2 separate regions of the Homo sapiens genome follow, and region 1 is linked to region 2. A link means that fine-mapping ties the variant in region 2 to the expression of a gene that starts in the linked region. Tissue or cell type: whole blood. Region 2 holds a variant in brackets; the other region holds the start of a gene. All regions are shown on one strand. Distances are between the middles of the regions.

The links. PIP is the estimated chance that this variant, and not a neighbour inherited with it, causes the effect.
Region 1: it holds the start of OPRL1, and the variant in region 2 is fine-mapped to the expression of OPRL1 in whole blood (TOPMed, PIP above 0.99).

The regions. Positions count from the first base shown.
Region 1 is chr20:64,076,884-64,084,883 of GRCh38, reverse strand. OPRL1 (opioid related nociceptin receptor 1) reads right to left here and starts at 4,802. Exons shown (of 5, transcript NM_182647.4): 1 at 4,532-4,802. It overlaps RGS19 (regulator of G protein signaling 19), which reads left to right and starts at 5,366. Exons shown (of 6, transcript NM_005873.3): 1 at 5,366-5,590; 2 at 7,930-8,000. The coding sequence starts at 7,998. It overlaps LKAAEAR1 (LKAAEAR motif containing 1), which reads left to right and starts at 486. Exons shown (of 3, transcript NM_001353425.2): 1 at 486-1,066; 2 at 1,179-1,301; 3 at 1,390-1,508. The coding sequence starts at 665. The coding sequence ends at 1,449. MIR6813 (microRNA 6813) reads left to right here and starts at 7,874; the gene lies at 7,874-7,929. RefSeq lists silencers at 1,074-1,153, 1,334-1,393, 4,218-4,391, 4,785-5,464.
Region 2 is chr20:64,133,094-64,141,093 of GRCh38, reverse strand. LOC105372727 (a long non-coding RNA gene) reads left to right here. Exons shown (of 3, transcript XR_937008.2): 2 at 104-181; 3 at 863-1,212. Among named protein-coding and RNA genes, the nearest start is that of MYT1, 27 kb to the left of the region's middle. RefSeq lists enhancers at 41-954, 2,791-3,290, 3,291-3,792. The variant G/A (reference allele first, on the strand shown) is at 3,218.

The DNA of each region.
Region 1 (8,000 bases), 56 kb after region 2:
CCTCGGCTGCAGGAGCTAAGGAGGGGCGGGGGCGTTAGCCGCCGCTGGGGCTGGCCGTGGCTCTGCCTCTGGCACAGCGAGCCCAGCCCTGGCTGGACAAGGTGGCAGCTGTAGGCTGGGGCCGGGAAGGGAGGAGCCAGCTGGGCTTTTGGACCCTCCCTCCTCTGTCACCTGCCCTCTAGGCTCTGCTCCCCACAACCATCTAGGCCTCGAAGGGCAAGAGCGAGCTGTCTGGTGGGAGACCCTGACTGTCGGGGACCGCAGACATAGGGGCACAACGAAGGTCCCCCAGGCGTCACCTAGAGCTCTCCATGTGGCAGGGCCTGAGATCAACCCAGTGGGGTCTCAGCATTTTCTCAATTCAAACAGAACAGTCCATCGGGTAGGAAAGATATTTCCTACAACTGAGTTGATCAGAAAGTCCTAGTTGACTGCAGGACTGAGCAGGATCAGCCGATGGCAGAGCTGCTGGGGACGTGCGCTTGGGAGAGGGAGAGCGCCTGGGCAAAGCTCAGAGGCTGGGGGTGCGGAACTCAAAACCGACTGCGGAGAGCCCAGCGGGCGGGAGCTGGGGCGCACGTTGGGGCCCTGCCGAGGGGCGGGCAGGGCCCGGTGCCAGCCCCGGCACCGACGGGACGCCCTCCTCCCTCCGCAGGGCGGGAGGATGCCGCCGCCAGCGAAGGAGGGCGGGCGCAAGGGCCCGCGGGAGCGAAGCGGGAAGAGCGCGCCAGGCACGGCGCAGGGTGAGGAGCGTGCCAAGGGGGCGCCCGCGACAGAGCCCCCCAAGCCGGGCTGGGCCCTGACGCCGCAGGGACTGGCGGCCATGCTCCCTGCGCAGCGCCACCGCCATCTGCTCTTCGGCGACCTGCTGGAGGACGTGGGCGCGGCGGCCTCCACCTTCCCGTGCGGGTCGGTGGAACCGGGGTACCGCATGCCCGACCCGCGCCCGTGGACGCAGTCGCTCGAGCTGCCCGCCGAGCGCCAGAACCGGCTCCTCGGCGTCCTCAAGGCAGCGGAGGCCCGCGGGCGAGTCCGCGCCCTGCGGCTGCGCTACACCCGCATGCGGGTGAGGCGAGGGGGTCGGAGGGCAGAGGGGGCGCACCGGGAGCGTTGAGCGGAGCCGGCCGGGGCGGGGCGGGGCGGGGCTCGGCGCGCGCTCAGCTACCCGGGCCCCGCAGGCCGAGGAGATCGCGCTGCTCATCCAGCGGCAGAAGTCCGCGCGCGCCGCCATCCGGCTGGAGCTGTTCCTGCCGCCGCAGCTGAAGCCCGCGCGGATCCCGGACCCCCTGGACCGCCAAGAGGTGCAGACAAGCCCCGGTAGGGGCGGGGAAAGGGGAGGGGCCCTGCCCGCCTCCGCACACGCCGGACCCCAGCCTCTCTCCCCGGCAGCGGAGGCGCGTGGAGACCATCCTGGAGGAGAACGTGGATGGCACCATCTTCCCGCGGTGACGGCGACTGAGAGTGTGCGACGCGCCCCAGCCTCCCACATAAAGTTATAATTCTCCGAAGGCTCGCTGGTCTTTTTGCTGCCACTCCCCAGGACCCCGAGGGAAGCGGGGAGTATGGACGCTGCCTCTCCCATGCACCTCACAGACATCAGGGTACAGAGAGTGGGGCCTCTCCCAAAAAAGTGGGGAGACGCAAGTGGGTGGGTGTGAAAGTAACAGGTCAGGGACACGCCTACCCCTAATCCCGATCTGCCCCCCACTGGCAACCTGGCGTTCTGTGGGTCTATGGGAGGCCCCCAGTCTTGGGGAGGACGGAGAAAGAGCCTGTTTCAGCAGAAGTCACCCCCAGATGTAAGGGTAGCCTCAGGCTGCAGTGGTCTCGAGTGCGAGTCATCCCACCAGGGGGCCAGGGAGAGGGCAGTGCTGTGGGCAGCGGAAGTGACCTAAGCTGGCCTTTGAAGAAGCAGCAGCTGTGCCCAAGAGGACCAAGAGACTGGGCAAGGGGAACCCCTGCGGCCCCCAGACAAAAATCCCACCCTCTGGCCTTCCTTTCCATCCTGAATAGCCTCCTGTGACCCCTTTAATGCCCCATGCCACACCCCCACACCCACCCCCCCACACACACACACCCCACACACACTCACGCATGCAGTACAAAAGGAAGCCACCCCTGTCCCATTCTGACAAACAGGCCCACGACCTACAAAATCCCTGGACTCTGAAAAGCCCCGAGGTTTCTGGGCAGACCTTACTTTTCTCCCCGACGTGAGCTCTTTGCAGACGCTGGGGCTTCCCTAGGCCCCCGCTTCCTTTTCCTCCCTCCCAGCCCCCTGCCCAGCAGGCTGCACAGAAGCGGGACCGCAGGAACTCAGACAAACCGCTCCTCCTGCTAGGGGGCTCCAGCTGACTGGAAGGAGGGGCAGAGGTCAGAACTGGGGTCCAGAAGGGATCCTGCTCCATGGCAGCCAGTGTTTCTCCCCAGCCCCGGCCAGGGGGTGGAGCCCTGCGCACTCGCCCCTCAGCCAGCCCTTCTCCCCGTGCACCGAGCACTTTACTCTTTCTGGGCTGTTGCTGCCCTTGGCCTTGACCCAAGCCCAGACTGTATACAGAGCTCAGAAGTCAGCTGACAAGGAGGGGACAGAGAGATGGCAGGAGGGGTTTCAGGAAGGGAAGGGTAGAGAGGAAGGAGGCCAGGGAGAAGGGGCTTGAGCAGGGGCAGACAGACAGGGAAGGGAGGCAGTCTGTCCAGGAGTGGCAGCCACTCACACCCTGATGTGCTTGTGACATGTGATGACAGCCAGCCCTGGTGTCGTCTGGCCAAACTCCCTGCAGCCTGGACCCCAGGATTCTGTGTCTTGGGGATTGACTGAGTGCCTAGAATGAGTTCATCTACTGGGAGAATCACATATTATTTCACCATTTCTCTGAGACTCCATTTCTTTATCTTTAAAATAAGGGTCTTGGTGCAGTACCCCACAGCAGCAAGTGCTCCAAAGGGGATGGGTCACTCTGCATCAGACAGGCAAGAGGGAAGAGGGGCAGAGACAGGCACAGCAGACCCAGCACCCAGAGAAGGCCAGCAAGACAGTGACCTCAGTGACTGCACCAGGGTCAGGCCGGCACTCGGGCCCTTTGATCCCCATGAAAAGGCGCAGGGGGTGCTGGATGTGCAAAGGAGGCTGGGGAATGGGGCCTGGAGGGACGCCTGCCTGTAGAAAGCTCTATGGGAAGGAAGGCATGTGGTCCAAAGCCCAATATATTGAGGGCTGTCAGGGCGCAGAGGGTCCTGGGTTCAAATCCCAGCTCCGCCATCAACTGCCCAGCTCACCTGGCCCCACCCATGGACTTCAGGATGCTGTGTGCCGAGAGGCAGAAGCCAGGGCGGTGGAGAGCAGGCCCAAGGGGCCAGAGGAGACGGGGGAATGACTGGGGGGTTGTAGAGTGACCCGAGGGGGCAGGGAGGGCACTGACCTTCACCCCCTGCCAGCTGCCCACAGCTGCATTTTCCCACAGCAGAGACAACAGGCCGGCTCAGCGGGGTCAGCCTGGTTGTGTGTGGCCTGGGCCAGGTGCTGGCCCATCTTCGTTGAGCTTCCCTGACCTCACCTGTGCCCACCGCTCAGGAGTGTTATGTGGGCTGAATAAGTAGCAGCCTGCCTCTTGTCCCTGTGGGCTTCCTGGCCCCTGCCTTTCCTTGCCTGGCCTGACAACATGGCAGTCACAGGGTTCTGGGTACAGCTTCGAGAGGCAGCCTGTCTGTCCTCCAGGGCCCTCTGACCTCTGACCTCCCCCTTCGGGCCCCCGCCCCCGCTCAGCAGCGCAATACCCTCCCCTCCTCAGCCCTCCCCCCTCTCACCCAGGCCTTCCCTGCCTGCTCCCCACAACTCACTCTGCGCCCCCCAGCATAAGATCCAGGCTGATCTATGTTGCTGGCTTCTGGTCCTACTGCCTGGCCCACAGGGGCACCCAGATACTGATACTTGTCCGTTGAATGAGGAATACAAGTAGAATCTCCAGCTGCCTTTGCACCCCTCAGAGTTCTGTGAAGGTGTAAGGTGTGCACCTGACCTGTGCAACTGGAAGGCATTTTATGAACAGATCCCGACACTGGGAACTATCCGGGTGGAGTGCTTGTGCTGGGGAGGACAGGAGCTGCACACAGCCGGGCCAGGGGAGGGGCGGGGGGCACAGATGCTCTGCAGACACTTCCAGAGCAGGGTCAGGGCCACCCTGACACAGGGCCAAAGCATGCTGCGATGAGAAGCCTAACCCACGTCTGTACCGAGTCATAAAGGATGAGAAGAGTCGGCCAAAGGGACAGGGCGTTCGTGGCAAAGGGGACAGTGTGGCCTTAAGCTTTAGGACATCTTGGGACACACGGGTCAGCAGGGACTCTGCCAGGCCCCACAGGAGACATTCGGCATGACTCCGGATGCAAGAACCCGCACCCCCAGTTCTCCCCAGCCCCGCAGCACAGGAATCTCCCCCTTCCTTGGGAACCCCCCACAGCACAGACAGGCGGCTCTTAACCCAGTTTTACAGACGCGGCTCACGGAGGCGAGGGGTGGGCCGGGCTGGCGTACCCGCCGATCGGTCCTTTGCAGCAGCCTCCTCTTTCCCAAGCTGGGCAAGCAGCATATGGGGCCCAGCTCTCGTGCCTCCACTGTCGTGGAAGTCCCACACGGATGGCAAAGCAGGAACGGCCCCGCCGAGCAGAGTCGGGGGCCACGGCCACACCCCCATCTACTACCGTGCGGCTCCGTCCGCCCGGGAGCCAGGGCTCCACTATGAGCACCTCGACTCTCCGGGCCACCCCCAGGCGACTGTGGGGGCCGACGCGCGGGCGGGGCGGGTGGGGTGCGGAGCCGGCCGAGCGCGGGGCGGGGCGCGGCGGGCGGGGCGGGCCCGGCGACCGCCGGCGCGAGGAAGTCCCGGCCCCTGGCTTTGGGGAAGTGCCGCCGAGGCGCCTGCGCACTGCGCCCCCGCGCCCCCTCCCCGACTGTCGGGCCGGACCTTGGAGCGCGCGGGCCGGCGGCGGCGCGAGTGGCTCGGGAGCGCGGCTGGTGAGTGCGCGCGCGCAGCGCCGGGGACAGCGGCCCTGCCCCTCCCGGCCCGGGCCCGGGGACCGTGCTGGGCGGGAGCTTCGGGAGCCGGCGCACGGGACTCGAACCCCAAGGGCTCCCGCCGCCAGGTCCACGTGGACCCTGGGCCGCAGTGGAAGTGGAGCCCGCCCCCCGCGCGTGGGGGAGGGGGCGCCGCAGCCGGGTTCCCCTTTTTCTGGAGCTCAAAGCCTGGGGAAGTGATTGCTCAAAGGTGGGGGCCGGAAGAACCCAGGTTTCCGCGTCTCCCTCCCCCTCTCAGCCCGGTGAGGAGGGGCCGGGGCGGGACACCCTGTCCGCCCCCGCCCCCACCCCGCTGGATCTGGCAGCCACTCAGCCCTTCGAGCTGTAGGGGAGGCGCTGCGCCCCCGGCCCCAGCCGATCGGGGGCTCCTGGCGCTAGCCTCCCTCCAGAGCGCCGCAGGAGTCCCTCCTGCCGTCTGACTTGAGTCCCTGCTGCTGCAGTGCACGCCCCTTCGGCAGCCAGGGTGGGGCCCAGACCCAACCTGGCCCCTCCTGCCCCCACCCCGCCTTTGGGTCGCTGGTGAGTAGGGAGCTTTGAGGTAGGGGTGGGGGCGTCAGAGGCTGAAGAAAGAGGCACCTGGAGGAGAACACAGGCTTCTCCAGACTGGACCCTAACAGCAGAGAGAGGAGCGTGGTGGGTGGGCCACCACCACCATTTCAGAGGTGGGGAGAGCTGGCCTTCCCTGGAGGGGCCAGGCCAGGGCTCGCCCACCAGCCAGATGTGGAGGGTGGCAGATGGGAAAGGCCCTGGGTAGGAGCTAAGGACTGAGAATGGAGCCCCTCTTCAACCCCCCTCCCAAAGGTTATGACATTTTTTTCTGGGATTGTCACATTTTCTTATTCTTTTTTTGGACTGGGCAGGCTCTGGGACGTTCTTTTTCCTTCTGTGGAGCAAAGCGGCAGCCACTCCCAAGGGATCCTCTATCCCCAGAGAGCAGACGTGCCGCCTATCCAGCCTATCCCATCCCAGACTTGGGGGCCAAAGCCTGGGAGGCTGGGGAAGGGGGTCCCCAATGCCAGGTTGACAAGCAGGAGGACCCTAGTTGAGACTCTGTATCCCCCAGGAGAGACGGGGGGAGGGTAGCCTGGGGACATGGGTTGCCCCAGTTGACCTGAGAAGGGTACAGGAAGCCAGGTCCAGGGACAGGTGACCAGGTCCAGGGCCTGCAACTGGGAAAGAAGGGGCTGGCTCCCTGCTCTGCAGCAAATGCAGCCCCTAGCACCCCGGCCCTGCACCCCTAAACACGTCCCCTCCTCCAGTTCAGAGCTGGGGTGGAGATGGTAGCCCAGGGGGACAGTCTCAGGGGTGCTAGAGTGTGGGGGAGGACCCTGGGTGGGGACAGAGAGGAGGAAGAACTGCTGCCTGGGGAAGCCACAGACAGCCCCGTCTGGGTACAGCTACCAAACCTCAGGTTGCCACGCCCCTTCCTTTCCCTAGAAACTTGACCCCTGAAAGAAAGCCCAGCTGCAGGGCTACTTTCGGTCTCCTCATCTACTTGCTAGGAGCCCGTGGGACCCCCAGTCTCAGAGGAAACTGGGCCGGTGGTGAGGGGCCAAGGTCCCAGGGGATGCTGCACCTGCCCCAGACTTGGGCCAGGGCAGTGGCCTCTGCATGCCCAGGCCTCGGGGGTATTGGGGGCCCTAAGAGTGCAGAACTCCAGCACTGTCTCTTCTGAGGGCCATTCACACACCGTCCCAGGAGGCCAAGAGAAGCCAACCAGCCAGAAACAAGCATTCAAAGGCCACGAGCTAGGGGAGGCGTGGCGGGGGGATGAAGATTGAGAAAATAAAGTAGAATCAAGTTGTGAGCTTCCTGGCCAGGGAGGGTGGCGGCACATGAGGAGGGTGGCGGATGTGCACGGAGGCCCCTCCCTGCCCTGGGCAGAAGTGGGCGCAGGTGTTCACAACTGCCTCCGGGGCACTGATTGGCCCCCCTGTACCATCGCCCAAGGAGACTTGGGATTCGAAGTGGCATCTTAGGTGGCATGAGGGCCACTCACAGCTTTGGCGCTCCTGGTGCACCTCCCCTGCAGACGGTGCAACCAAATGCTGGGAGGGACATGCACCACACCACACCCCCCTCAGGGACTCCGAGGCTTCGACTGGGGAGCAGGGTGCCCCCCACCCCTGCCACCCCCACTTCCCTGGCTGGCGCACCCTGTGGTAGGGCCTTGGTTCCACAGCAGTTTCACAGCCTAGAGGCAGTGGGCAAGGAGGGAGGGAAGTCTTGGGTGGGAGGTAGCAGGACCAAAGAACCATGTTTGGGGGGCATGTCCCTCCTCACCGGGGCCCTGCCCCCCTTCCCACACCCTCAGCAAGTCCAGCCTGAGTCCCACTTAAATCCTCACTGCTGCAGGTCTAGCCTGCTGCCCCTGGCTGAGACCTCTGGGACCCACAGACAGACCTGGACTCTTGGTGGGAAGCCACTCTGCCCACTCCCCACCCCAGACACCCTAGAAGCCAGTCTGGCCACCACCCGCACGCACCAGTTGGTAGCCCCAGACTCTCGGGGCCCCTTTGGGAGGGGCTGGGAGCCGGAAACCAAGAAAGAGGAACCCAGGCTTCCGGCTTCCCAGGGAGTGAGCGGATGGGGGTGTCTCGGAACCTCCAGTGGGGGCCTCATCTGGGGCCCAGCCTGGGAGGAGGGGCCAGAAGCTGCTGCAGCTCCCTCCTCAATGATCCTGGACCCCCTCCCAGCCCTGCTGTAAGCTTGGGGTCGGGGTAGAAGCCCTAGGCAGAGCTGGGTCCAGAGGCAGGAGCAGGCCCCGCTAGGGAGACACCCTCTCAGGACCCCTCCTAAGGGGTAGGCAGGGGCTGGGGTTTCAGGTTCTCAGTCAGAACCTTGGCCCCTCTCCCCAGACCCCCAGGCTGTGGTGAGGGTCTGAGAGCTGGTACCACGGAGCCTGGGCAACCTCCTCCGCCCACCCATG
Region 2 (8,000 bases):
AGGAGGAGGGGGAGACAAGAGGAGATGGAGCAGAGAGCTCTCCAGAACTTGGCTGTGATGGGGTCGAGGCTAAGAGAGCCTTTGGTTTGTTTTTTAACAACAGACTCCTGAGTGTGTTAAGTCCAAAGAGCAGGACTCCGTGAAGGAAAGAGGGAAGAGCTGCAGCGGGGAGGCTGAACAGGTAGGAGCGGGGCTGGTACTGCCCCCAGCCAAGCCACGAGGCCTCCAGGCCTCATGCCCGTTGCCTTGGCCTCCCACCTGCTCCCTTCATTTGGGAAGACATTCCCTGCCTCCTTTCCACCTTGCACCAACCCACTCACACACCCCAGAGCCCCTTAGTCGCTCTCACTTTCTTCTTTCCTCTTCCAGGGCGGCTGTCTGCCCACACCCCTGCTATCAGCCTGTGAGCTCAGGGACTGACTCTGCTTCTGAGTACATAAAACCTCCAGTCCCAAGTGGCTACCTGGTCCACAGGCACACCCACCTTCCCCCTCAGTGGGATTTTCTGTGGGGCCTGCAGCAGGGACAGTCTCAGGTGTGGGGAGAGCCACTGCCTTGAAATCCAGCTAGCATCTTGACCCAGCCCGTGAGTCACAGGTGGGCCCCCAGCCCTGGGTCAGAGGGTGGCTAGTCATGGCGCCCACCCGGCCTGAGAACGGTGGCAGAAAGGTGAGCTGCCCCTTTCATTTCTTCCCAGGCAAAGCCTCCAGACAACAAGAGCAACATTTTAATTTAAATTCTGATTCCACATTCATTCACAGAGCAGCTCTGAGCAGGGATTTCATTAAAGGCTTTAACAGGTTTTATAGGACTTGTCACCTCAGGGAAGGTGATGGAGCAAATGCATTTTCTCTGCCTCCAGGATTTTAACAACGGCTTGAAGAAACAAACTTACCATGAAAATGCAGGGCAGTCCAGCCTTGTGCAGACAAAGGAGAAATGAGCCTCACTCGGGCAAACAGTGCTGGCGACCTCCTCTCCCTCCCTCCACCAAGGAAAACAAAAGAAGGGCAAGGCCCAGAGTGGACAGAGGCTTCTTCCCTGGGTCAGAGAAACACGAGGTCTCGGGGCCCAAATCCCAGCGCTGCCTGGAGGAAAGGACCCAGCACCTCCCAGCAAAGGCCTCTGTCCACAGCTCCCTTAGTCTGGGGCAGGGAAATCTGTCTGCACCTTGCCTTGGCTTCTTTCCCTGGGCCCTGGGGGACAACTGCCTATCCGCTTTCCCCCTCAGGAACAGGGACACATTAGCAAGGTGACCAGTGTGTCCCAGTTGGCCCAGATTGTGCTGGTTTTAAAACGGAGAGTCCTGGAAACCCCTTCACCTGGGCAAACCAGGACGGTGGAGCACGGGGCAGGACGAGCAGCAGGACGAGCAGCAGGTCAGCCCTGGGGCCCACAGCTGCCGGAGGCTTCCTGGTCACTGTCTGTTCCCAAGCGCCTGAACTTAACCCTAACCCTACCCCTAACCCAAATTCCACTCACCACTGGCAAAACTGTCCTCTGTCCTGGACTACCTCCGCCCTGGCCAGGGTGCTCAAGGCCCTGTTGGTGGTCGAGGGGTTCCTATGGATCCCGGACCCTGGCCTGGGCCTAATCGGAGCCCGCCTGGGCCTCTGACCACCATCTCTCTCTGCTCTGCTGTCAAGGACCACCCCCCGCACCCCCCCCACCCGCCTTCTGCCAGGTACCTCAAGAGAAACATGGATGGCCCCCCTGGGCTCCCTACCCCAGCCACAGGGCTGTGGAGGCCACTCCCTCTGAATGCCACACCCCACACTGCACATGCCCTGCCCGCTCCCCCAACAGCAGAGTCCCTGCAGGACAATGGCCAAGCCTCTCTCACTGGGCGAGCTGCTCCCTCTCCACGGGGGCCCCAGCTACCCAGGTACAGAATTTCTAATAGTCAGAGCAAGTGTTTAGGGAACCATCAAAGCAGGACACCAAAAACAATTGTTTTAAGAATTTGGCTTTTTTTTTTAAGTGTTTAAGTTGACCTCAGGAAAATCTGCAATGTTTTAGACTTTCTTATACTGATTTTATGATTTAATATTGTTTTAATGCTTAAAGATTTTATGTCAAGAAGCATCATAACTTGGCTGGGCACGGTGGCTCATGCCTGTAATCCCAGCATTTTGGGAGGCCGAGGCGGGCCGATCACGAGGTCAGGAGATCAAAACCATCCTGGCTAACATGGTGAAACACTGTCTCTCCTAAAAATACAAAAAAAAATTAGCCAGGCATGATGGCAGGTGCCTGTAGTCCCAGCTACTCGGGAGGCTGAGGCAGGATAATGGCGTGAACCCGGGAGGCAGAGTTTGCAGTAAGCCGAGACTGCACCACTGCACTCCAGCCTGGGCAACAGAGCAAGAATGCGTCTCAAAAAGAAAAAAAAAAAAAAGAAGCATCATAACTTTTTGGCAGGAGCTCAACATACGTGCTCAGTTCCCGTGCCGCAAGAATGGGTGAGTGCAGGACAGCGCATGTGGCTCAGCACGAATCTCTCCGCTGTCCTTATTTGATAATGAGGCCTCTGCCCACCCAATGGAGGGTGAATTCCCCAAAAGTGGAGACAGGCTGGCCTTCATCTCTGTGAGACTTCCCAGAGGCAGCAGCACAGCTTAGCAGAACACAGCTTGAGGCCTGGAGTCAGCCAGTCCCGCGTTCGAATCCCAGCTCGGTGTGACCACGGGCAGGTTACTTAACCTTTCTGAAACTCAGTCTCCTCACTTAGACGGCAGGGTTGTTGTGAGTAGTAAATGAGCTCCTGAAGGTCAACACAAGGAACCTGCATACAGTAGGTGCTCGTTAAAAGTAACCGCTAGTGTCTGATTCCTCATGGCCTTGTTCCAGGGCGTGGCTAGAGCAGGGCTTCACCCGTGTGCACTGGATGAATGAATGACAACAGCCTCCCCGGCCCTCCCCACCCCCACAGACCCTGCCCCATCTATCCCAGCATCACCTGACCCCCACCCTTACCCCAAAACGCTGACATTGAGAGGTCCATAGAGCTCCCCATGGACAGCCCTGGGGTCACAAAGGCAGATTACAGCCTTGTCTAGAACAGCTTGTGGTCAGCTCATTCCACACTGGCCCTACCCTTTGGCCTCCACTAGGCCCAGACCTGAGGCCTCCAACACCCAACCGCACACTGCACCCCTGGGGGCTGAGTCCAGGTGCCCTGGGGAGCTTCTGGAAGTGCCCATCCCCCAAGTCGGTT[G/A]TTGTTGGTTCAGTAATGGAGCCACATCTGGCAAAGCTCATCCCAGCGTCCTGTGCTGCACCTGTCCAGCATCTGGCCCACCCCACTTTCCACCTCTGTGACCTGCAGGGCCACCTGCGGCTGCCTGACTCCGGGCTGCTGGGTGGGACTGGCCTGCAGGGAGCCAACTGGGAGTGGGTGTTTGCTTCCCCAGCCCTCCCTGTAGGGTCCTGCACTCGAGTCTCCCCACACCCAGGTCTCTGCTCCTGCAGGACCACCTCCCTTGCAGCCTCCCTGTGTCCTCCGAGGCCTGAGGGGTCCCACCCAGCATTAGCCTTAGTGGTTTCTCTACATGCCAACCACATCTTAGTCCCTTTATTCATCTCTCCTCAAATTTCCCAAGTTGAGGGTGACATCTGTCTCCTCCATGGATGCTAACTGACACCAATCAATCACGACCTTGGCTCTTATACCAAAATAAAGCCTGGATAGATTTAAAAAGATTTAAAAGTTTTTAATTTAAATAGTACTAGAAGAAAGCATGGGGGAAGGGGGATATTATGAAAAAGATTAATTACCTCATGTAATAAAAAGAAAATTCTCTATGGCAAAACTCCTTAAGCAAAGACAAAAGTCAAATAACAAACCAGGGGAGGTGGTGCCACATACCTGTGGACCCAGCTGCTTGAGAGGCTGAGATGGGAGGATCCCTTGAGCTCAGGAGTTTGAGACCAGCCTGGGCAACACAGTGAGACCTCTGTCTCTCAAAAGAAAATTTTTTAAGAAAAAAATGAAAAAAATATCTGCAAGTATGTAGGTGTAAGTTCCTTAATATGTAAACGCCCCGTACAAATCAATAAGACAAAATCCAACAACACAATAAGAAAAATGGGTCAAGGGCCTGTAATCCCAGTATTCTGGGAGGCCGAGCCAGGCGGATCACTTGAGGTCAGGAGTTCGAGACCACCCTGGCCAATATGGCAAAACCTTGTCTCTACTAAAAATACAAAAATTAGAGCCCAAGAGTTCGAGACCAGCCTGAGCAACATAGTGAGGCCCTGTCTCTACATTTTAAAAAATTAAAGATAATAAATTTTTAAAAAGAAAGAACGAGAGACTTCACAACACACACATTAGGAAGGCATGGGCAGCAAGACACTGCCACCACCTCCGTGGTACAAGCTCTGTGGAGGGCAGTGTGACAATACGCCCTTCAAAGTTAAAACTTCAGACCCCCTCTGCCTGGCACATCTTCCTTCAGAAATCTGCCCTAAGATGTGCTCACCCACTGGGAGACGACTCATGTCCAAGGACGCCTTTGGCACCACTGTCTGTGAAAAAGAAAACGTTGAAAGCAACCTGGCTGTCTCTCAATAACGGCTAAATCGGTCAGGGGCCGCCACACCAAGCAACCTCGATGTCCCTCAATAACGGCTAAATCGGTCAGGGGACGCCACACCATGGGCAAGGGGGCCCTAACGATGCGGGACCTCTTCAAGCCATGGTGTTTCATGCAAAGGCACAGTGCAAAGTCCCCTGACAACTGAGGGAGCGTGTGTGTTTGTGATGCGCAAAACTGAGGGAGCGTGTGTGTTTGTGACACACAAAACTGAGGGAGCGTGTGTGTGATGCGCAAAACTGAGGGAGCGTCTGTGTTTGTGACGCACATAACTGAGGGAGCGCGCGTTTGTGACGCACAAAACTGAGGGAGCATATGTGTTTGTGATGCACAAAACTGAGGAATCGTCTTTGGGATGCACGAAACTGAGGGAGCGTGTGTGTTTGTAACACACAAAACTGAGGGAGCGTGTGTGTTTGTGAAGCACAAAGCTGAGGGAGCGTGTGTGTGATGCGCAAAACTGAGGGAGCGTCTGTGTTTGTGACGCACATAACTGAGAGAGCACGCGTGTTTGTGACGCACAAAACTGAGGGAATGTGTGTGTTTGTGATGCACAAAACTGAGGGAGCGTGTGTGTTTGTGACACACAAAACTGAGGGAGCGTGTTTGTGACGCACATAACTGAGGGAGCATGTTTGGGATGCACGAAACTGAGGGAGCGTGTGTGTTTGTAACACACAAAACTGAGGTAGCGTGTGTGTTTGTGACGCACAAAACTGAGGGAGCGTGTGCGTTTGTGATGCACAAAACTGAGGGAATGTGTTTGTGATGCCCAAAACTGAGGGAGCATGTGCGTTTGTGATGCACAAAACTGAGGGAGCGCGCGTGTTTGTGGCGCACAAAACTGAGGGAATGTGTGTGTGATGCACAAAACTGAGGGAGCGTGTGTGTTTGTGAAGCACAAAACTGAAGGAGCGTGTGTGTTTGTGACACACAAAACTGAGGGAGCGTGTGTGTGATGCGCAAAACTGAGGGAGCGTCTGTGTTTGTGACGCACAAAACTGAGGGAGCGTGTGTGTTTGTGATGTCCATAACTGAGGGAGCGTGTGTGTTTGTGAAGCACAAAACTGAGGGAGCGTGTGTGTTTGTGATGTCCATAACTGAGGGAGCGTGTGTGTTTGTGAAGCACAAAACTGAGGGAGCGTGTGTGTTTGTGATGTCCATAACTGAGGGAGCGTGTGTGTTTGTGAAGCACAAAACTGAGGGAGCGTGTGTGTTTGTGATGTCCATAACTGAGGGAGCGTGTGTGTTTGTGAAGCACAAAACTGAGGGAGCGTGTGTGTTTGTGATGTCCATAACTGAGGGAGCGTGTGTGTTTGTGAAGCACAAAACTGAGGGAGCGTGTGTGTTTGTGATGTCCATAACTGAGGGAGCGTGTGTGTTTGTGATGCGCAAAACTGAGGGAGCGTCTGTGTTTGTGACGCACATAACTGAGGGAGTGCGCGTGTTTGTGGCGCACAAAACTGAGGGAGCGTGTGTGTGACGCACAAAACTGAGGGAGCGTGTGCGTTTGTGATGCACAAAACTGAGGGAGCGTGTGTTTGTGATTCGTGTAACTGAGGGAGCGTGTGTGTTTGTGATGCACGGAATCACTGTCAAGGACCGGAAAGAGGAGAAGCAGAAACGCCTCCTTTTCAAGGGGAACATCACACACCGGGGACTTTTGTGGGGTGCGGGGAGAGGGGAGGGATAGCATTAGGAGATACACCTAATGCTAAATGATGAGTTAATGGGTGCAGCACACCAACACGGCACATGTATACATATGTAACAAACCTGCATGTTGTGCACATGTACCCTAGAACTTAAAGTATAATAATAATAAAATTTTTTAAAAAAAGAAATGCTTCCTTTTCACTGTATGCAGTTTTTTTGTTTTGCGCATTTTTTAAACTATTATTTATTTTTAAACTTTTACTTTTTGAATCATCTGGATGTATAACCAATTTCCCCCAAAAAAAGGAAAATAATTTTTTTTAAACGTTTTAAAATTCCTAATCCTAGGATGGTCCCAGAGTGATCCTGAAGTGCTGTGGGGAAGGGCACACTTTAAGACTCAGGCAATGGGCTGCAACCTCCTGTTCCAGGCCGACCCCCTCAGGTGCTCTCCCCACTCCCCAGAAAGGATGAGGTACCCCTGGTAAAAACCCCTGGATGGGGCAAACATGAACAGTTACTGCCACCCTCTGGTGCACGAGGAGGCAGACGCAGTCTGGAGACCCCGGGGACTCATCCCGAAACTTTAGGAAGCACCAAGGTCCCCCAAAACCCTGTTAAAACCTCATAGGGGTGCTCCAGGGCCATGTTCTGTGTGGCCCAGGGCTCACTGTGAGGGTCCACTGGGCCACCCCCACATGGTCATGTTTGCTGTGCTTTGATTTAAAAATAAGTAAATACATAAATAACCGAGTGTCCAGCCCCTCCCTGAGCTGCCTTGGGGGAGGGCCGGGTCTGAAAGTTAACTGCTCCCCAGCTGCTGAAGCAAAAAGCAGCCGAGGGCCCTTCCCAAAGCTGCTGTGGACCAAGACCCAAGCTCAAGTTCCGGGAACCCAAGGAGCAAATGCAGAGGGTCCTGAGGGTGGACAGTGAGGGGGTCTCTACAGGCCATATGGGTGGACAGTGAGGGGGTCTCTACAGGCCATGAGGGTGGACAGTGAGGGGGTCTCTACAGGCCATGAGGGTGGACAGTGAGGGGGTCTCTACAGGCCATGAGGGTGGACAGTGAGGGGGTCTCTACAGGCCATGAGGGTGGACAGTGAGGGGGTCTCTATAGGACATGAGGGTGGACAGTGAGGGGGTCTCTACAGGCCATATGGGTGGACAGTGAGGGGGTCTCTACAGGCCATGAGGGTGGACAGTGAGGGGGTCTCTTTGGACATGAGGGTGGACAGTGAGGGGGTCTCTATAGGACATGAGGGTGGACAGTGAGGGGGTCTCTACAGGCCATGAGGGTGGACAGTGAGGGGGTCTCTACAGGCCATGAGGGTGGACAGTGAGGGGGTCTCTTTGGACATGAGGGTGGACAGTGAGGGGGTCTCTATAGGCCATGAGGGTGGACAGTGAGGGGGTCTCTACAGGCCATGAGGGTGGACAGTGAGGGGGTCTCTACAGGCCATGAGGGTGGACAGTGAGGGGGTCTCTTTGGACATGAGGGTGGACAGTGAGGGGGTCTCTATAGGACATGAGGGTGGACAGTGAGGGGGTCTCATAGGACATGAGAGTTGACAGTGAGGGGGTCTCTACAGGCCATGAGGGTGGACAGTGAGGGGGTCTCTATAGGACATGAGGGTGGACAGTGAGGGGTCTCATAGGACATGAGAGTGGACAGTGAGGGGGTCTCATAGGACATGAGGGTGGACAGTGAGGGGGTCTCATAGGACATGAGGGTGGACAGTGAGGGGTCTC